3 linked regions of the Homo sapiens genome follow. The protein of the gene in region 2 purifies or fractionates together with the protein of the main gene of each other region. This does not show direct contact. Each region holds a gene or a part of one and is shown on either strand. Other genes may lie near its edges.

Region 1 (3,539 bases), on a different chromosome or scaffold from region 2:
CAGCAGTTAGCTCAGTGCTTAATGCCTTATATTTATTTTCTCTACTTCTTAAAACAGCTAAGCAGTGTAGATAGAGTTGAAGTCCTTAAGACCAAATAGTGCATAAGACCTTGATCCCAGGGTCACCCAGTTAACAGTGATGTGGCTCAAAGCCAGTGTACTTTTTCCACTCAGCTTCTCTGATAGTTTCAGATTCCATTAGCACTGTTAATCTACTGGCCAAGCGCAGTGGCTCATACCTGTAATCCCAACACTTTGGGAGGCCAAGGCAGGTGGATCACTTGAGGCCAGCCAGGAGTTCGAGACCAGTCTGACCAACATGGTGAAACCCCATCTCTAACCACAAGTATAAAAATTAGCCAGGCATGGTGGCATGCACCTGTAATTACAGCTACTCGGGAGCCTGAGGCACCAGAATTACGTGAACCCAGGAGGCAGAAGTTGCAGTGAGCCGAGATTGCACCACTGTACTCCAGCCTGGGTGACACAGTGAGACTCTGTCTCAAAAAAACAAAAAAAAACCCCACTTAATTTTCTATGACTCTCTCACTAGACTAGCAACTGGAAGTTAGGAAACATTTTTGCTTTGGGATGAGAGACCTTAGGACATTCCAGTTACTGCCATTTGCCTCTTGCTTTTTATCAGATAACTGACCATCTGGGGTGTTCGAAAGTTTACAGAGAATATGTTGTGTGTCTTACGATAGAGGAGTATAGTGAGGCTCTTGAATCAATATCTAATACCTGAACTTGCAGAAATGACAATCTCTTTGGCTGACCCAGCATCTTTTATTAACCACAAATTATGAGTCCTTTCTTAGTGCTGTATTAGCTTCAGGTTGGAAATCCTATTTTCTCCAACTTAGAAGAGAAATATTAAAATAAGTACCTTCCACCCTTAGAGACAGTTTCTTAAAACAAATTAATTTTCCCCATTAGGTTCACCAGCATTTTTGTGTATTGAAGGGAAAAGGATTATTCTCTAATCCTAGTATAAAATTGTACTCAGAAATTTAATGTTTTATTTTGTGTATGTTAATGTTTATATTTTATGTTTTCTTCATTTCTTTAATTACAGGCATCAAGATTACGCGAAGAAGCGCATAACATGGGAACTATTCACATGTCCGAAATTTGTACTGAATTAAAAAATTTAAGATCTTTAGTCCGAGTATGTGAAATTCAAGCAACTTTGCGAGAGCAAAGGTAAGTCTTTCACTGAAATATATTTTTATGTTTCTCAGGATTATGATTCTTAAATCGAACTAAAGAATGTAAATCACATTTTATTTATGAAATGTAAAGTTCTCTTCGATACATTGATCACATTCTATCACTGCATTTTCATAAGTTAATATTTCTCGTGAAGGATAAAGCCTGTCGATTTTCTCTTAACCCATGATGAATGCTTCATTAGACTTTTCTCATAACTCCATAAGCTGCAATAATATATTACTGAAAAAATGAAATATTGACCACAACTAATTATAAATGTCCTCTCTTGCTGAGGGTGTTTCCATTGAAATTTCAGATTATTTGTCCTTGCATCATCAATAGATCCCTTGAAAAGTATAGAAAGAATTTGTCTAGCAAGTTTAGTGTATCTGCTGTCTTAGTATTTTTCACCTGAACTCTTGTCTTGTATTTCTTAATCTAGTGTTTCACTCAAGTAGAATATCTAGGTCACAATAATAATAGCATAGGTATTATTTTTTAATGCCTATTACAGAATTGAGGACAAACTTGGCAATGGCTTTATGTCCTGTCTGTGCAAGTCACAGAGTTACAGGTCGATTGAATCTTGTCAAGAAACCATAAATATTTAGTAAATACCAAATGGAGTTTATAGTACAACTTGAAAAAGTAAGTTTATTTACAGTTACTAAAATATCTGGAGGTACTCTCTGAGTAACAACTTGGGTTCTTATAGTCAGATTGCTCTGAAAGTAGTTCTAACAAACTTCATTTTGGCTTGTTACATCATTCGACTTTTGGGAAATTATTCATTATTGCATCTTAGGAAAACAGTATATACAGTCAAATATCAAGCCAGCCTGATTATGCCTAATTCATGTGTACAGGCAATAAATATTATAGTTCCCAGAAGAGAAGAGTAAAAACAGGAAATATTTTTACGTTCATGGGAATCTGGGTAACTGGGGTTTGTGTGTTTCAACTTTTGGTTTTTGGCTTCATTTTTATGTACCTACATCTACATTGAGAATTGCTCTTCTAAATGATTAATCTCTTACACCTGGTTAATTCTACTCTTTACTGTATAGTGGGCCAGAAAACATGCAGTATAGGTTTATTTCATGTATAATAGCTACTGCTTTCTTTATTGTGATGATACGGTTTATAAAGTAATACATTTTAAGTTGTTAGAGCCAAAGGAATTATTAAGAAATTGTTAGAAAAGGCTGGGCGCGGTGGCTAACGCCTGTAATCCCAGCACTTTGGGAGGCCAAGGTGGGCGGATCACCTGAGGTCAGGAGTTCAAGACCAGCCTGGCCAACATGGCAAAACCCTGTCTCTACTAAAAATATAAAAATTAGCCGGGCGTAAGGACAGGTGCCTGTAATCCCAGCTACTCAGGAGGCTGAGGCAGGGAGAATTGCTTGAACCCGGGAGGCGGAGATTGCAGTGAGTCAAGATTGCACCCCTGCCCTCTAGCCTGGGCAACAGAGCAAGACTCTGTCTCAAAAAATAAAATAAAATAAAAAGTTGTTTGAAAACTAAAACATCCTTTCATCATCCTTATACTTTAATAGATATTATGTATTAAATGTTTACTTTGTCTTAACTGTAAACCAATTTATAGTTAAATAATTTTTTAAATTTCTTTGCCTTAATTAGAAATCACTTGTTTTAATTTAAAAAATTTTAATTATAAAAGCTCGGGTTTTCTGTAATATTTGTATATGTACACAGGTTCTAATGTCTGCTTTTTTTTTTCAGGATACTATTTTTGAGACAACAAATTAAGGAACTTGAAAAGCTAAAAAATCAGAATTCCTTCATGGTGTGAAGATGTGAATAATTGCACATGGTTTTGAGAACAGGAACTGTAAATCTGTTGCCCAATCTTAACATTTTTGAGCTGCATTTAAGTAGACTTTGGACCGTTAAGCTGGGCAAAGGAAATGACAAGGGGACGGGGTCTGTGAGAGTCAATTCAGGGGAAAGATACAAGATTGATTTGTAAAACCCTTGAAATGTAGATTTCTTGTAGATGTATCCTTCACGTTGTAAATATGTTTTGTAGAGTGAAGCCATGGGAAGCCATGTGTAACAGAGCTTAGACATCCAAAACTAATCAATGCTGAGGTGGCTAAATACCTAGCCTTTTACATGTAAACCTGTCTGCAAAATTAGCTTTTTTAAAAAAAAAAAAAAAAAAATTGGGGGGGTTAATTTATCATTCAGAAATCTTGCATTTTCAAAAATTCAGTGCAAGCGCCAGGCGATTTGTGTCTAAGGATACGATTTTGAACCATATGGGCAGTGTACAAAATATGAAACAACTGTTTCCACACTTG
Region 2 (3,712 bases):
GCTGCTGGCCCCTTTTTAGGTCTGCCCTTAGAAACATAGGTAAGCCCATTCCTCCACATTTAGGTCTTGTCTTGGGAGGTGGGGCACATATAGAGGTCCTCTTCCATATGGGTGTCAAGGAACTAATCAGATTCTCAGTTGCTCATAAAGTATTTCAGTCCCAAATAGTACACCCCACTTGATTTTCAGGATGGTTTGTTTTTCTTAAAAAAGTATTCTTTTAGTTTTAATCTGAACCTGGGGAAAAGCTTCAGGTTGGTTTTCGAGATGCTATTATGTTTTAAAATCAGCTGTTACCTCAACACAGTACTCCTGACAAAAAATCAGTAAGTAAAATCAGCTGTTTTTTTGTTTTTGTTTGTTTGTTTGTTTGTTTTTGAGAGGGAGTCTCCCTGTGTCGCCCAGGCTGGAGTGAGGTGGTGCGATCTGGGCTCACTGCAAGCTCTGCCTCCCAGGTTCACACCATTCTCCTGCCTCAGCCTCCTGAGTAGCTGGGACTACAGGCGCCTGCCACCACGCCCAGCCAATTTTTTTTTTTTTTTTTTTTTTGTATTTTTAGTAGAGACGGGGTTTCACCGTGTTAGCCAGGATGGTCTCGATCTCCTGACCTCGTGATCCGCCCGCCTCGGCCTCCCAAAGTGCTGGGATTACAGGTGTGAGCCACCGCACCAGGACTAAAATCAGCTGTTAAAAAGGGGCTACTGTTTTTAGCCAGGGAGCAGTGTGAATTGGGAGTGTGTGGCTTTTTGGATCTTCTCATGTAATACTTAAAAAAATACTGGGCAGTCCTTGGGTGTTCTATAGTAAGGTTCTTGGGGCCCAGCCAGGGAGGAGCTAGATAGTTTCTGGCTACTGGAGTATACCTTATGGGGCAGGGGCAGGGGCAGAGGTAGGCAGGGAATGAGGTGAGCCTTTATTTTTAATTTATTTTTTAGATAGAGGCTCACTTTGTCACCCAGGCTGGAGTGCAGTGGCACGATCTCAGCTCACTGCAACCTCTGCCTCCCAGGCTCAAGTGATTCTAGCGCCACAGCCTCCCCAGTAGCTGGGATTACAGCCGGGTGCCACCATACCCAGCTAATTTTTGTATTTTTAGTAGAGAAAGGGTTTTGCCATGTTGTCCAGGCTGGTCTTGAACTCCTGGCCTCAAGTGATCTGCCCAGCTTCCCAAAGTGCTAGGATTACAGGCGTGAGCCACTGCACCTGGCCGAGCCTTTATTTTTTAACTGCTTGTGATAGATTCTTTCCTTTTTGTTTCTAAGAGGTTTTCTGATTTTCCTTTTTTTTTTTTTTTGAGATGGAGTTTTGCTCTTGTTGCCCAGGCTGGAGTGCAATGGTTCAGCTCACTGCAACCTCTGCCTCGCGAGTTTAAGCGATCCCTTGCCTCAGCGTCCCAAGAAGCTGGGATTACAGGCGCCTGCCACCACGCGCGGCTATTTTTTGTATTTTTTAGTAGAGATGAGGTTTCACCATGTTGGCCAAGTTGTTCTCGAACTCCTGACCTCAGGTGATCCACCCACCTCAGCTTCCCAAAGTGCTGGGATTACATGCGTTAGCCACTGTGCCCAGCAAGGTTTTCTGATTTTTTATATCAGTTCTCCATTATACTTCTCTGTCTTATATGTTTTCTGAAAGGTATCTGAACTCTTTCCAGTCATGTTGGGTATTAGAGATCAGAACACCTAATGACATTGGGCTGCAGACCCCAGTAGGAGACTAAGGAGGTTTGGCACGTCCCAAACATTATCTATAGACCAGTGTGAAGTGTGTGTGTGTGTGTGTGTGTGTGTGTGTGTGTGTGTGTGTTAGGAAGGGTCTTTCTGAAACATCCTAAAGGGGTCTTATACCTAAAAAATGTACAGAGCCCCTGCCCTGGGATGTTCATTCTTGACACTGTCATTGCACAGTGTGAGTCTACAGAGAAGAGTCCTCAGGCATGAAATTATCTTCTTGAAACCAGTGCCGCCATCTTACTAATCATTAGCAGTTAGCTATGTGGAAGAAGCCTATATAGAGGCCATACTTCTATAGCATTTTTGAATTGTGTGTTGCAACTTCCTTCAAATAAAACTTATGTTTTTCTAAGTAGCCAGGTTTAACTTTAGTCTGTTGATGCCACTCTAAGTGAAATTCAGCTGATCCTGAAAAGTGAGATACTTAGAGGGTGCATAGAGTTTTGCCAGTTTTGTTTTCAGACAGGGGTCTCTCTCTGTGGCTCAGGCTGGAGTGCAGTGGCTTGCTCACGGCTACCCGCAGCCTTGACCTGCCAGGCTCAAGTGATCCTTGCACCTTAGCCTCCCCAGTAGCTGGGACTACAGGTGTGTACCACCATGCTTGGCTAATTTTTGTAGAGACTGGGTTTTGCTATGTTCCCCAGGCTGGTCTCAAATGATCCACCTGCCTCAGCCTCCCAAAGTGCTGGTGTGAGTCACTGTGCCTGGTGAATCTTTAAGACTCTTCCAGATAAGCCCATTCTGAGAACGAGTCATCTGATCTATGTACCATGACAAATTTGTGTGGTATTGAAGGCTGTCCCCTCTCCATTGAATGCCACTGGAAAGAGAGCCATGAGGACTTTGCAGCAGTTTCATCCTTTGCCTGCAGTTTTTGCACACATGACAGAGGATGCTGAAAAACATTAGGCAACATTGCCAGCCCATAGACAAAATACTCCTGATGTCCAGCCATACACCTGAAAACGTCTGTTGTTGTTCTGCCCAGAATTGATGCTTTAGCTAAAAAATTAGAGTTTAGTTGGGTTTTAAAGCTAGCTACCAAGTGGAAGTAAATTGCCTGGCATTGTTGGTATCTCAAGACAGACAGTGATGATGATTTGGAGACATAAGCTCTTTAAGATTTTAAAAATACTTTATGGCTATTCTGCAGCTTTGAGGCAAGTAGATCTCTGCAATCTGTCCAGCTCTTTTTTTAAGTCTGAGAAAAGAAATGAGCATTGGTTTCTGACAGGTGGAATTTGTTGGACAGTTGCAGTATATGATTTTTTTTCTTTTGAAAGGGGATTCAAACACACATACATTGAGTAAACAATCTTGATTATCTAACTGCCATCCTAGGCTACTGCTGGCAGCCTTTGTGGTTGCTCACCTTACCAATTAATGAGCGATAATTAACAAAGAGCAGCAGCTGACTCAGGAAAGATGTCATTGCTATGACTGTCAGAATTAATATTTCCAAGGTAATGTTTTAAGGAGAAAGGAGTGATTGACTAGGAAGCTATCATTATTGACTCAAAGAAAGAAGCTGTCAACCTAATTTACGTGGTCCATTTTTTTCTGAGAACATTTTTATCCCAAGAGGGAAAATGGCAGTATGAAAAGTGACTATGAAGGCTGGGCGTGGTGGCTCATGCCTGTAATCCTAACACTTTGGGAGGCCGAGGCAGGCAGGTCACGAGGTCAGGAGTTTGAGACCAGTCTGACCAACATGGTGAAACCCCGTCTCTGCTAAAAATACAAAAATTAGCTGGGCATGGTGGCACGTGCCTGTAATCCCAGCTACTCAAGAGGCTGAGGCAGGAGAATCACTTGAACCCGGGAGGTGGAGGTTGCAGTGAGCCGAGATCGTGTCATTGCACTCCAGCCTGGGCGACAGAGTGAGACTCTGTCTCAAAAAATAATAATTAAAAAAAAGAAAAATGGGCTGGGCGCGGTGGCTCACGCCTGTAATCCCAGCACTTTGGGAGGCCGAGGCG
Region 3 (3,712 bases), on a different chromosome or scaffold from region 2:
AAAAATTTAAGCAGAGTCTGAAGGATAAATCAAGCTGTTAATAGTTCGCTGGAGAGGCCAAGGCAGAGGTGTAGTTAGAGGAAATAAAGAAGAACTTTTCAGGCACAGGGAATGCCAGTGTCAAGGCCCCAAAGCAGAATGGAGACGTGCGAGTTTGAGGAAAGGAAAGAGGACCCATCTGGCTGAGAGCTGAGGAGAGTGAGGCTCCAACAAAGATGCAGGGGTGTGCGGGAGGCTAGATATTTCAGGGCCTCATAGGCTGGTTTAAACACTGTGATGTGATTGTGTGTGTGCATGTGGGTACATGCATGCATGCGTCTGTGAGAGAGAAATGATGAGATTGTTTAAAAGCTTACTCTGGCTTTAGCGTAGCGTAGAACATTTTCTGGTTACATCTTTATATCTCTCCTGCTGCATTTATTGTACTTCACTAAATACTATGTATTATTATTTTGTGAGCTTCTTTTGCCTCTTGAATTTTAAATCGATAGGTATTAATTACTGAAAGTTAGAATTCATCAAGCCCTGATAATAGCGTCTGAGGTTTATGTGAGTGTATTTCTAGAAGAGAAAAGAAGTCTCTTCCCTTAAATGCTAAGCGTATTCAGGTACTCTATCCTCCTTCAATGAAAAATACAAAAAAAAAAAAGTTTACATGTATTTTCGTTTACAGTCTGGTTTCATCCTGCCTTTTGGACATTCCGGGATTTAGTGCCAGTACCTTTCTTTAGATGTTAGAAGATTAAACTTGGGATGAAGAGAGTAAATTAAAAACATGTTACAGATTCCCACATTGTGTGAGACATACTTCTAAAGAAGCACTGTGTTTGTTATTTGTGTCTTTCAAGACCTAAAATTTAGTCAAGGAGTATTATACATGTAGGGCTACACATTAATACTCTAGAACGCTGGTTCAGGAGTCAGAGAGACCTGAAGCCTGGCAAACAGCCCTATTACTGCCAACTGCAGGGTCACTTTAGCATCCTGAGCCTTAGTATCTTCCTCCATTTAAAATAATGGGATTTACTAGTTTATAATTGTAAGAACTGTTAAAAATTTATTAGTACTTACAATGTGCCAAGCACTTTTCTAAACATTTTACATGGATTAACTCAGTCTTTGCAGCAATTTCAAAAAACAGTTGCCTTTATTATGCCCATTTTCCAGATGAAGACACTGAGATATAGAGACGTGGGTTTGCTGAAGGTCACACAGCCACTTATTAAGTGGCTTCAGAGTCAGTGCTCCATTAGACAATACTTTTAAAGGTCCTTCTTGCTTGATCATTATGTAATTCTAGCTGATTCATAATGTACCTATATTTAAAGTATGTTTGACCTAGAATAGCAGACTATTTCGGGGGTGGGAAGTGGGGAGGAATTCAGAAGTGAAGAAAGCTTTGACTGCCCAATGTTGTGCATATGTTTTGCCACGAGGAAATTTTCTAACCTGTGCTTTCTACTTTGTAGTTTTAGGTCCTTTTCCTGCCCACTCAGCTGATAGGAGGGCTGCTGTTGTGAACTCCAGCCAGCCGAAGGCTGCTTGTGCCTCTCCAGCAGGTTAAAGCTCAAGCACATTGCATTACTGCATTCTGAAAATAACAAAAGCCTGCATCATACTGGCCAGATGGTTTTCATTAAGGATGTGCTATAATTTTGTTTCCCCTCAGGTGGAGGAAGGTGACTCTTGCCCTATATACTATATATACTAGTGCTGTGTAAACAGTACCAGGAAGACATCTGGAGTATGAGGATTCTTGGTTTCACAACCACTGGTCAACCCTTTTTGTTGTTGTTAACATTTTAACATCTTTATGGAGATAATTCATAAACCATAAAATTCATCCATTTAAAATGTACAAGTCAGTGATTTTAGTATATATAAAAAGTGTAACTATTACCATGATCAATTTTAGAACATTTTCATTATCCCAGAAAGAAACCCAGTACCCATTAGCAGTCACTCCTACACCTACACCTGCCCTTCACTGTTGGCAACCACTAATCTGTCTGCACAGATTTGCCTCTTCTAGGCAGTTTATATAAATGGAATTATATAATATGTGGTCTTTTGTGGCTGGCTGCTTTCCCGTAGCATAATGTTTTTTTTGGATAGCATGTATCAGAACTTCATTCCTTTTTATTACCAAATAATATTTCATTGTATATGTATACCATATTTAGTTTATCCATTTTCAGTTGAAGAACATTTGGATTGGGCTGTTCTTTTTGTTTTTGTTTTTCTTGGTTATTATGAAATAACACTGCTGTGAACACTCATGTACAAGTTTTTGTATAGACATGATTTCATTTCTCTTGGATATCTATAATACCTAGGAGTGGAATTGCTGGAGTCCTATGATAACTCTTTATTTAATAATTTGAGAGACTACCAAATAGTTTTCCAAAGTGACTGCACCATTTTACATTCTCGTCAGTAATCAAAGAAGTTTCCGTCTTCACATTCTCATCAACCTCATTATCGTCTTAGTATAGCTATCCTAGTAGTGGATGTGAAATGATATCTCATGGTTTTGATTTATATTTCTCTGACTTAATGATGTTGATTATCTTTTTATATGCTGATTATCCATTTGTATATCTATTTGGAAAAATGTCTGCATTTTTTGCCCATTTGTTTGGGTTATTTTTTCATTACAGAGTTGTAAGAGGTTTCTTTTTTTTTTTTTTTTTTTTTTTTTTTTTTTTGAGACAGAGTCTTACTCTGTCACCCAGGCTGGAGTGCAGTGGTGTGATCTCCGCCTCCCGAGTTCAAGCAATTCTCCTGCCTCAGCCTCCTGAGTACCTAGGACTACAGGTGTGTGCCACCATGCCTGGCTAATTTTTTGTGTTTTTAGTAGAGATGGGGTTTCACTATGTTGGCCAGGCTGGTCCGAACTCCTGACCTCAGGTGATCCGCCTGCCTCGGCCTCCCAAAGTGCTAGGATTACAGGTGTGAGCCACTGTGCCCGGCCAAGAGTTCTTTATTCTGGATATAAGTTCCTTGTTAGATAGATGATTTGCAAATACAGTTGACCCATGAATAATGCAGGAGTTGGGGCACCAATCCCCACAGTCAAAAGTCTGCATGTAACTTTCGATTCCCCCAAAATCTTAACCAGTAGCCTGCGAATAACCAAAAGCCTTATGAATAACTTTAACAATTAACACATATGTTATGTCATATGTGTCGTATACTGCATTCCTACAATAAAGTAAGCTAAAGAAAGGGTTATGAAGAAAATGATAAGGAAGAGAAAATACATTTACTGTTCATTAAGTGGAAGTGGGTCATTGTAAAGGTCTTCATCCTTGCTGTCTTCACATTGAGGAGGCAGAGGAAGAGGAAGAGGAGGGGTTGGTTTTGCTATCTCAGGGTAGCAGAAGTGGAAGAAAATCCGCATGTGCACGGTTGAAATTCAAACCCATGGTATGCAAGGATCAACTGTATTTTCTTTTCTGTAGGTTGTCTTTTTCATTTTCTTCCTGGTATCATTTGCAACACAAAAGTTTTAAATTTTGATGTAGTCTGATTTATCAATTTTTTCTTTTCTTGTTTGTTTTTGGTGTTACATTATCTTAGGAAACCATTGCCAAACCTAAGGTCATGAAGATTTACCCTTAAGGCTTTAAAAATAGTTTTTAGTGCTTACATTTAATTCTCATCCATTTTGAATTAATTTTTGTGTACGATATGAGGTAAGAGTACAGCT

Evidence for each region.
Region 1: the proteins of CDKN2AIPNL (region 2) and WAC purify together in Homo sapiens (affinity purification with mass spectrometry; one large-scale study listed by BioGRID and IntAct). This does not show direct contact.
Region 3: the proteins of CDKN2AIPNL (region 2) and PLEKHA8 purify together in Homo sapiens (affinity purification with mass spectrometry; one large-scale study listed by BioGRID and IntAct). This does not show direct contact.

Annotation. Positions count from the first base shown.
Region 1 is NC_000010.11:28,616,579-28,620,117, forward strand, and holds part of WAC (WW domain-containing adapter protein with coiled-coil), read left to right. Parts: intron 1-1,078; coding exon 1,079-1,206; intron 1,207-2,958; coding exon 2,959-3,028; 3' UTR 3,029-3,539.
Region 2 is NC_000005.10:134,405,351-134,409,062, reverse strand, and holds part of CDKN2AIPNL (CDKN2AIP N-terminal-like protein), read left to right. Parts: intron 1-3,712.
Region 3 is NC_000007.14:30,031,335-30,035,046, forward strand, and holds part of PLEKHA8 (pleckstrin homology domain-containing family A member 8), read left to right. Parts: intron 1-3,712. UniProt on the Homo sapiens protein: Cargo transport protein that is required for apical transport from the Golgi complex. Transports AQP2 from the trans-Golgi network (TGN) to sites of AQP2 phosphorylation.